Regions from separate parts of the Homo sapiens genome. Here all the other regions are linked to region 3. Evidence: fine-mapped expression QTL. A gene starts in region 3. Each other region holds a variant in brackets. All regions are shown on one strand. Distances are from middle to middle. Region 1 has its middle 6.7 kb from the start of PIK3CD. Region 2 overlaps PIK3CD (phosphatidylinositol-4,5-bisphosphate 3-kinase catalytic subunit delta). Region 3 holds the start of PIK3CD-AS2 (PIK3CD antisense RNA 2).

What was found.
Region 1: its variant is fine-mapped to the expression of PIK3CD-AS2 in nasal epithelium (TOPMed, PIP above 0.99).
Region 2: its variant is fine-mapped to the expression of PIK3CD-AS2 in whole blood (TOPMed, PIP above 0.99).

The regions. Positions count from the first base shown.
Region 1 is chr1:9,643,569-9,646,405 of GRCh38, forward strand. It overlaps a transcript of PIK3CD not described here. Among named protein-coding and RNA genes, the nearest start is that of PIK3CD, 6.7 kb to the right of the region's middle. The variant T/G (reference allele first, on the strand shown) is at 1,299.
Region 2 is chr1:9,716,060-9,718,559 of GRCh38, forward strand. It overlaps PIK3CD (phosphatidylinositol-4,5-bisphosphate 3-kinase catalytic subunit delta), which reads left to right. Exons shown (of 24, transcript NM_005026.5): 5 at 1-19; 6 at 381-560; 7 at 900-1,049; 8 at 1,478-1,567. It overlaps LOC124903839 (a long non-coding RNA gene), which reads right to left. Exons shown (of 2, transcript XR_007065457.1): 2 at 2,044-2,311. Among named protein-coding and RNA genes, the nearest start is that of PIK3CD-AS2, 30 kb to the left of the region's middle. RefSeq lists enhancers at 1-273, 274-1,249, 2,226-2,500 and a silencer at 1,901-1,970. The variant A/G (reference allele first, on the strand shown) is at 1,412.
Region 3 is chr1:9,686,296-9,689,132 of GRCh38, forward strand. PIK3CD-AS2 (PIK3CD antisense RNA 2) reads right to left here and starts at 1,279. Exons shown (of 2, transcript NR_126367.1): 1 at 1,040-1,279. All of the region lies in intron 1 of PIK3CD (phosphatidylinositol-4,5-bisphosphate 3-kinase catalytic subunit delta), which reads left to right. RefSeq lists an enhancer at 1,034-1,203 and silencers at 1,254-1,393, 1,719-1,913.

The DNA of each region.
Region 1 (2,837 bases), 43 kb before region 3:
CCCAAAGATGCCGTTCTAGAATATAACTAAGATAGCTCAAAAACTCACATTTTCTGAGGGTGCCCTCTGTGTCAGGTACAGTTATAAACATTTTACATATATTAATTCATTTAATCCCAACAGCAGTTCTGAAAGTTGAGCACCATTATTAGTGTCCCCAGGCTACAGATGAGGAAGCAGAGGCATAGAGAGGTTAAGTCACCTAAGGTCACACAGCTCCACAGTGGCAGGGCCAGGCAGTTTGGTTCCAAAGAAGGTGCTCTTAACCCCTAAGCTTCACTATACTTTTCCTGGCCAAAGCAAAGGGTAAAGACTCGAGCTGGGTAGTTTCTGCCTCGCCTGGAAGGAAAAGACCCACACCCAGCAAAGTGGGCTTCCTGCCAGGATGGGGCATGGAGGCAGTGTCTGGAGTCCCTTGTGCAGGGGCTGAAGAAGTGGGCTTCTCACACTTGCAGCCCCCACTCCCTGGGTGCTCAGAGTGGCTGCCCTGTGATAACCCTTCTTATGGGCATGCGTGGGTGGTGGTGGTGAAGCCACTCCGGGTTGAGCAAAACAAAAATGTTTGCAGCATTTGTGAGAAGAAGCTGTGAGTTGCTTGGCTTTTGGAGGGGAAGTTCTGCAGGGACGTTCTGCAGGAGAGGGTTACAGGAAAGAAGAAAGCCTGGGCTGGAGTGGTGGCTCACGCCTGGAATCCCAGCACTTTGGGGGGCTTGAGTCAGGAGGATCACCTGAGGTCAGGAGTTTGAGACCAGCCTGGCCAACATGGTGAAACCCTGTCTCTACTAAAAATACAAAATTAGCTGGGCGTGGTGGTGGGCGCCTGTAGGTAGTCCCAGCTACTTGGGAGGCTGAGGCAGGAGAATCACTTGAACCCAGGAAGCGGAGGTTGCAGTGAGCCGAGATCTCACCACTGCATTCCAGCCTGGATGACGAGGAAGACTCCGTCTCAAATAAATAAATAAATAAATAAATAAATAAATAAATAAATATGTAACCTTCAAGAACAGCCATCATCGTTCTTCAAGTTCCTGATAGAATCGGCTGCTGCCTTCCTCTATGCAGTTTCTGAGCTCTCTAGCTTTATTTTTAACTGTTGTCATGTGTGCCTTGGAGGAAGCTACCTCAAGTTCCCTTTGAATTGTCAAAAAAAATGAACTAGTTGCAGTGGAGAATGGACAGCAATCCTAGAAGAAAAATGGCCCCTTAGCTGCAAGAAAGTCAACCAACATGCATTACTTACATCAGCTCTGGGGCCTTCCGCTCCTTTCTCAGGAAATTAATACTGATTGGGAAATACT[T/G]TGGCCCCATTTGATGGAAGAGAAAAGAGGTGTTAGTCATTAAAGGGTGGGGCTGGTCAGTGGAGAACAGGCTTGGACGGGCAGAAGCACACTGCAGGCCCTTCCGCAGAGCTTGCCCAGATCTCCAGGCCTATTTTTCTTTTCTTTTCTTTTCTTTTCTTTTTTTTTTTTTTTTTTGAGACGGAGTCTTGTTCTGTCACCCAGGCTGGAGTGCAGTGGCGCAACCTCGGCTCACTGCCACCTCCGCCTCCTGGGTTCAAGTGATTCTCCTGCCTCAACCGGTAGCTGGGATTACAGGCACCCACCACCACACCTGGCTAATTTTTGTGTTTTAGTAGAGATGAGGTTTCACCTGTTGGCCAGTCTAGTCGCAAACTCCTGACTTCAGGCGATCCACCTGCCTCGGCCTCCCAAAGTGCTGGGATTAGAGGCGTGAGCCACCGCTTGCCCAGCTTGAATGTTAAATTTAGCTTAAGCTTCCTGGCACCCCAAGCAAAAGAGAGGGTCATGATAAGTCCCTAGGGTCACGGTTTCAAAAAGGAAGTGTATCAGGTTTTCAGGAAAGTGAAACTTCTATTTTATTTTATTTATTTATTTATTTATTTTTTTGAGATGAAGCTTCGCTCTTGTTGCCCAGGCTGGAGTGCAATGGCATGATCTCGGCTCACTGAGGCAATTCTCCTGCCTCAGTCTCCCAAGTAGCTGGGATTACAAGTGCCTGCCACCAGGAATGGCTAATTTTTTTTTTTTTTTTTTTGAGACAGAGTTTCGCTCTTGTTGCCCAGACTGGAGTGCAATGGCATGATCTTGGCTCACTGCACCTCTACTTCCTGAGTTTAAGCAATTCTCCTGCCTCAGCCTCCTGAGTAGCTGGGATTACAGGTGCCCGCCACCATGCTCAGCTAATTTTTTGTATTTTTAGTAGAGATGGGGTTTCACCTGTTGGCCAGCATGGTCGTGAACCCCTGACCTCAGGTGATCCACCTGCCTAGGCCTCCCAGAGTGCTGGGATTACAGGCATGACACTGTGCCTGGCCGTATTTTTATTTTTTATTTTTTATTTTTTTATTTTTATTTTTATTTTTAGTAGAGATGGGGTTTTGTCACGTTGGCCAGGCTGGTCTCAAACTCCTGGCCTCAGGTGATCCGCCCACCTCAGCCTCCCAAAGTGCTGGGATTACAGGCGGGAGCCACCGCACCTGGCCGAAAGTGAAACTTCTTAGGACAGAGGCCTAACGAGACCCATGGCATGGTGAAAGTAGCAAGGATCTGGAAGAAGTTATTATAATAGATATTTATAGACTGTGTGGCCCTGAAAAAGGACTCAACTTTCCTGAGCCTCAGTTTTCTCATCCGTAAATTGGGGATAAGATTTACCTTGCTGGGCGGTTGTACGTATCAGGGAGAAAATATAACTTCTCCTCAGCCCCGGTAAGTTCATAGTTGGGACAGCCCGCCGTAACAAAAGACAGATTCACGTGAAAACCAAGCAAGTTTATTAACAGATGCAGTGCACATCACGAGGCAGAAACCTCAATG
Region 2 (2,500 bases), 30 kb after region 3:
TAAGTTTGAGGGCAGCGAGGTGAGCCCATGCGTGGCCTGCGGCATCCAGGCTGCTCTGTCCATGGGGAGCACTTCCTCTGTGAAACTCCTCAGTCATCCGCAAGCCCCCCTCCCCCAGTGGCATCAGATGGTGTTTGCCAGGTGTCTGTGCATGTGTGGGGCTCAACTGAACGTCCCCCCAGGCAAGCTCAACGTGGCAGGATAACCAAGTGGCGTGGGGCATTGGGCATCAGTTTGTTCATTCTTTGAACAAATATTTCCCAGTGTCATTTGTGAACTCCCCAGACCCTACCCTTGGGGGCAAATAGGCAACCCTGCCCTGTGCCCCAGAACCCCGGGGGGCCTCGAGGGCAGAGGACTGACCTCCCTCCTCCCCACAGGAGAGCTTCACCTTCCAGGTGTCCACCAAGGACGTGCCGCTGGCGCTGATGGCCTGTGCCCTGCGGAAGAAGGCCACAGTGTTCCGGCAGCCGCTGGTGGAGCAGCCGGAAGACTACACGCTGCAGGTGAACGGCAGGCATGAGTACCTGTATGGCAGCTACCCGCTCTGCCAGTTCCAGGTGAGGCCGCTGAGGCCCTCTGCACTCTGGGCTCCCAACGCCCTGGATAGGGCCTGGGTGGGAGTCGGGGAGCTGACATTTGGGCGCACCTTGAGCCTGCCGAGCCAGGCCTTTGGGTCACCGCCAGAGCATCCCCTGGTAGGGCTGGCCCTCTCTGAGAGCACAAGGAGGGGCTCCGTCTTGGGAGGTGGAGGTGGGGCAGGAAAAACCAGCAGGAAGCCCTCCCCTCTCCCAAGGCCTAGGACAGGCAGTGGGCAGCTTGGGGGGTCCTGGGAATCCTGGTGTCCAGGGAGTGGTTGGGGCCGCCCCACCAGCCGCTCACCCTGCACCCCGTCTCAGTACATCTGCAGCTGCCTGCACAGTGGGTTGACCCCTCACCTGACCATGGTCCATTCCTCCTCCATCCTCGCCATGCGGGATGAGCAGAGCAACCCTGCCCCCCAGGTCCAGAAACCGCGTGCCAAACCACCTCCCATTCCTGCGAAGAAGGTGAGATGGCGCCTTCCGCCTCCCCTCTGAGCCACCCCTTCTTTCCACCTGGCGTCCAACTCCATGTGCTACTGGCCATGGGTCCAGGGGCCCTTGGTATGGAGAGCTGGGGCTTTGAGCTGGGGAAGCCAACACAGCTGACCAGCGTCCTGGGCTGGGGGCCTGTGGGACTGCCGTGGGTGGGGGGCAGCCCCATGCCTGGCTCACCGGCTGCCCTTCCCCTCTGCAGAGCTCAGGGGTGTTGGGGCCCCCTGGGGAGCCCGCATGGCAGGTTTTCTGGGAAAGGATAGCATTGTGGACAGGCCCAAACCTGGCCGCAAACCTGTGACCCTCTCACCCGCCCCCAAGTGGTCACGGGCCTC[A/G]CCATAGGCCAGGGAGACAAGCTGCACTTTGAGCCGTGTTAACAGCCCTGCTTCCCCGGCCCCCAGCCTTCCTCTGTGTCCCTGTGGTCCCTGGAGCAGCCGTTCCGCATCGAGCTCATCCAGGGCAGCAAAGTGAACGCCGACGAGCGGATGAAGGTGGGGCTCCTGGGATAGGTGGGAGAGACACTGTTTTTTTGCACAAACAAGGTGGCTGTATCCTGGAGGGGTAGCAGAGGAAGGAGGGGGATCACATGAAAGCCACCTGACCACATTACCCAGCATCCCTGCCTGGGGCGCTGTGAGCGGCTTGAAAACAGGAAGTGGGGAGGGGGTGGGCCAGCCGGCCCTGGAGGCTGATTCGTAGAAACTTGGGCCAAGCAGCGTTCTGGGTATTTGACTTTGGTGGAGGTTATGGGGCCAGGTTCAGCCCAGGGATCCGGGACCGCAGAGCTGGGGGAAGGGCCGGGCATGGAAGAGGGGCTGGGTCCAGCTGGGCTGGGGGCTGTGGTGCTCCCTGGAGGCACCAGGGCGGTGCCTGCAGCCTGTGAGGGCTGCACCTGCCTCAACCTCTAGGGGCTGAGCCCACCTCCCTGTTGTCTCTTAACACTTTCACACGCTCCATCGCAACAGCCTGCAGTCATGGGCTTTATTGTCCTGTTTGCTGGACATGATACCTGAGTCCTCAGAGGTTGGCCCTCCTGCCTGGAGTGTGTTTCACTGGGGAAATCGTATAAGCAGGGCAGGTCTGGGTTCCACTGGCAGGAATCGAGGGGGACTGGATCAGAGGGACTTCCAGGGTGGTGGTGTCAGGTGGAATTGGAAGGGGCCGGACATCAGGTGGCAGGAAAAGTCCTTCCCCACCCACATGGGCTCATAGGAATCTGAGAAGTCCAGGGAGCCCTAGGATGTTAGAGCAAGGGTCCCTGAAGTTCTTGATCCCTGATGGGGAAACTGAGGCCTGGAGTGGGGAATGGACATGCCCCGAGGTCCCCAGAGTTGGGGTAGCTGAGACAGGGCACCCATGCACAGCCCGTGGTACCCTCCCTCACCCCAGGGCCGCTCATGCCCCTCAGGCCTTCCCTGTGCTGC
Region 3 (2,837 bases):
CAATCCTTCTCCCTTGGCCTCCTAAGTAGCTAGGACTACAGGCAAATGCCACCATGCCAGGCTAATTTTCTTTTTTTTTTTTTTTTAGTAGAGACGAGGTCTCACTGTTTTGCCCAGGTTGTTCTTAAACTCCTGGCCTTAAATGATCCTCCCACCTCGGCCTCGCAAAGTGCTGAGATTACAGGCGTGAGCCACCGTGCCCGCCTTAATTTACTCTGATTTTTCTTTTCTTTTTAAAATAGAGACGGGGGTCTCACTGTGTGGCCCAGGCTGGTCTTGAACTCCTGGGCTCAAGTGATCCTCCTGCCCTGGCCTCCCAAAGTGCTGGGACTACAGGCGTGAGCCACTGTGCCAGGTCTACTCTGATATTTAACAGTGGTAAAATTCATTTATCCACTAAATGACTTTATTTATACTCTCACTTAATTTCAGAAAGGACTGAAGGTACCTGAGCTGTGAACAAAGAATCAGAGACTGGTTTTTCCTCCATCTCTGCCACTAACTAGTTGTGCCACCTGGGGCAAGTCACTTGGTCTCCTTGTGTCTGTTATCCATGTGTGAGAGCCAATACTTAATATGAGTGCCAGGCACTGTTCTAGAGATTTTCCATGCATCTGTATTCACTCTTTTAATTCTTCTCTACACAATTTATTAAGGTCTCTATCTTTTTAGAGTTTGTCAGGGCAGTTCCAGTTCATCGTGGCAATACAAGAAAGTCACTTTTGGGGGCTTTTGCCATTTCAAAGAATCTTGGATTTTTCTCTGGGCTCCAGAGACACCCGTGCCTGACACCCCCAATTTGAACCCCCAGCGGATCATTGGGTTCCATTGCTGATGGGGACCTTGTGTTTGAGCTTGACTTTCCCTCCATCCATGCTGGAGATAAACGGAAGTCTTCGCGCAGGGGGACGATTGCAGGACGGGGCCGCTAGGGAGGAGGGCTCCCACACGTGGGGAATGGGGGTGGAGGAACCGCTGAAGCTCGTCTGCCCTTTGGAAAATCTCGTTGGTGTCCTAGCCCTGGGATCATTGTACTTACCAGGTTGGGGGGCTCTGCACCCAGAACTCCTCCCAGCCTCTGTCTGCCCGTCCAAGGTCCGGCGTGACTTCCGGTGGCTGATTTCTCATCTTGGGGAAATCCCCGCCCTGGGGGGGTCCGGTGTGGCCTGCAGGGAGCCTGACTCACCCGTCGGCTGAGTCAGGGGGTCCCAGCTGCCCTCGGATGTCTGCTGCACCGCTCCCCTCCCTCAGGCGGGGGACGGCAGGAAGGAGGGAGAGATGGGAGGGCGTGGGGGCGGGGCCGGGGGCGGTCTCCAGCCCCCGGCCCGGGCTCCGCCCTCTCCCGGGATCTGTGAAAGCACAGCCAGGGTGCGGGCGGGTGAGTGCCCACCTGGTGCAGGGTGTGAAGAGCGAGAGCGCGTGTATGAGCACGAGCGTCTGTGGTCTCTGTGTGTCCGTTTACATGATTGCGCCTGTGTCTGTGTGTGCGCATCTGCATGCGTGTCTTTTTGAGTGAATGTCTGTGTGTGACTTCTAGGGACGGCCAGGGAAGAGGAGTGTCCCCTCCCACCCTGGCCCCCCGTCTTCTCATCCTGGACTCCCTCTCTTCTCTCTCCTCCTTGGGGGGTGCTCTGGGCATCCGGGACCCCTGGCAAGGCTGCCGGGTGCTGGGAGGACGCAGAGGCCGCCGAGGGCGGAGGGAAGCGTCAGGCCTGGCTGCGCGCGCCCTGGCTAGGGAGCTCCGAGTCCCGGCCGCCTGGTCCTTTCATTCTGGGCTTCTTCGAGATTCTCGAGGGCTTCCAGCCGGCAGTGTTTTCTCCTTGCCGTCTTCTCAGGCACGAGGAAGGCTCCTGGAGCTCATCTGCCTGGGATGGGCGGCCCTGCCTTGACCTCACGTGCAGCAATTAGGACCACCAAGGAGTGTTCTTCAAACCACCTTCTACCACCCCGCGGGACACGCCAGGGCTGATTCTGGTGCTCGCACCCCGCTTCCTCCTCTGCGTTCCCCTGTGGCAAAGGTTTGTCTTGGGCTGTGGACCCGAAAGAATATTCTAAGGGGAGATGGGCTCTTGCAGAGCAAGAGGGGTATGGTTTCAGCACCAAACTAAACTGGTGCCAGCGCTAGCTCTGCCCAAGAGGCTGTGCAGACAGTGTTTGTGTGAGTACGTGAGGGTGAGAGTCCCTGCCCGCCTAGCTTCGGCTTCCCCACTTACAACCAAGGGAGAACAACATCTATCTTACAGTGTAGATGCCTGGATAAAAACTGGAGCGCCTGGCCGAGCACTTTGGGAGGCTGACGCGGTAGGATGGCTTGAGCCCAGGAGTTCGAGACCAGCGTAGGCAACATAGTTAGACCCCCGCCTCTACAAAAAATTTTAAAAAATTAGCTGAGTGAGGTGGTGCGCACTTGAGGTCTCAGCTACACGGGAGGCTGGGGTGAGAGGATCGATTGAGCCAGAGAGGTAGAGGCTACAGTGAGCTATGATCGCACCACTGCACCCCAGCCAGGGCAACAGAGCAAGACCCTGTCTCAAAAACAAAAACACTGGAGCGCCCAGAGTTTTTTTTAAGTGCGGGACAAGGATTGTCTCGGTGTTGTTACTGCACGCACACCGCCCGTTGTAATGGATAGATGCATTAGTGAAAGTGCTAGGTACACTCATTTATTTTCTAAATCTCACATATAAGGGAACCCCCGATGGAAAGGCCCATCAGCTAGGGAACAGCCAGCAGGCTGGATTTGAGCCCAGAGCCCGGGCTGGCCAATTACTCGAGTGAGTCTGGCTCCGGCTCTGTGACCTGGGTCCAGTACCCCGCCCTTTCTGCGGATGCCTTGC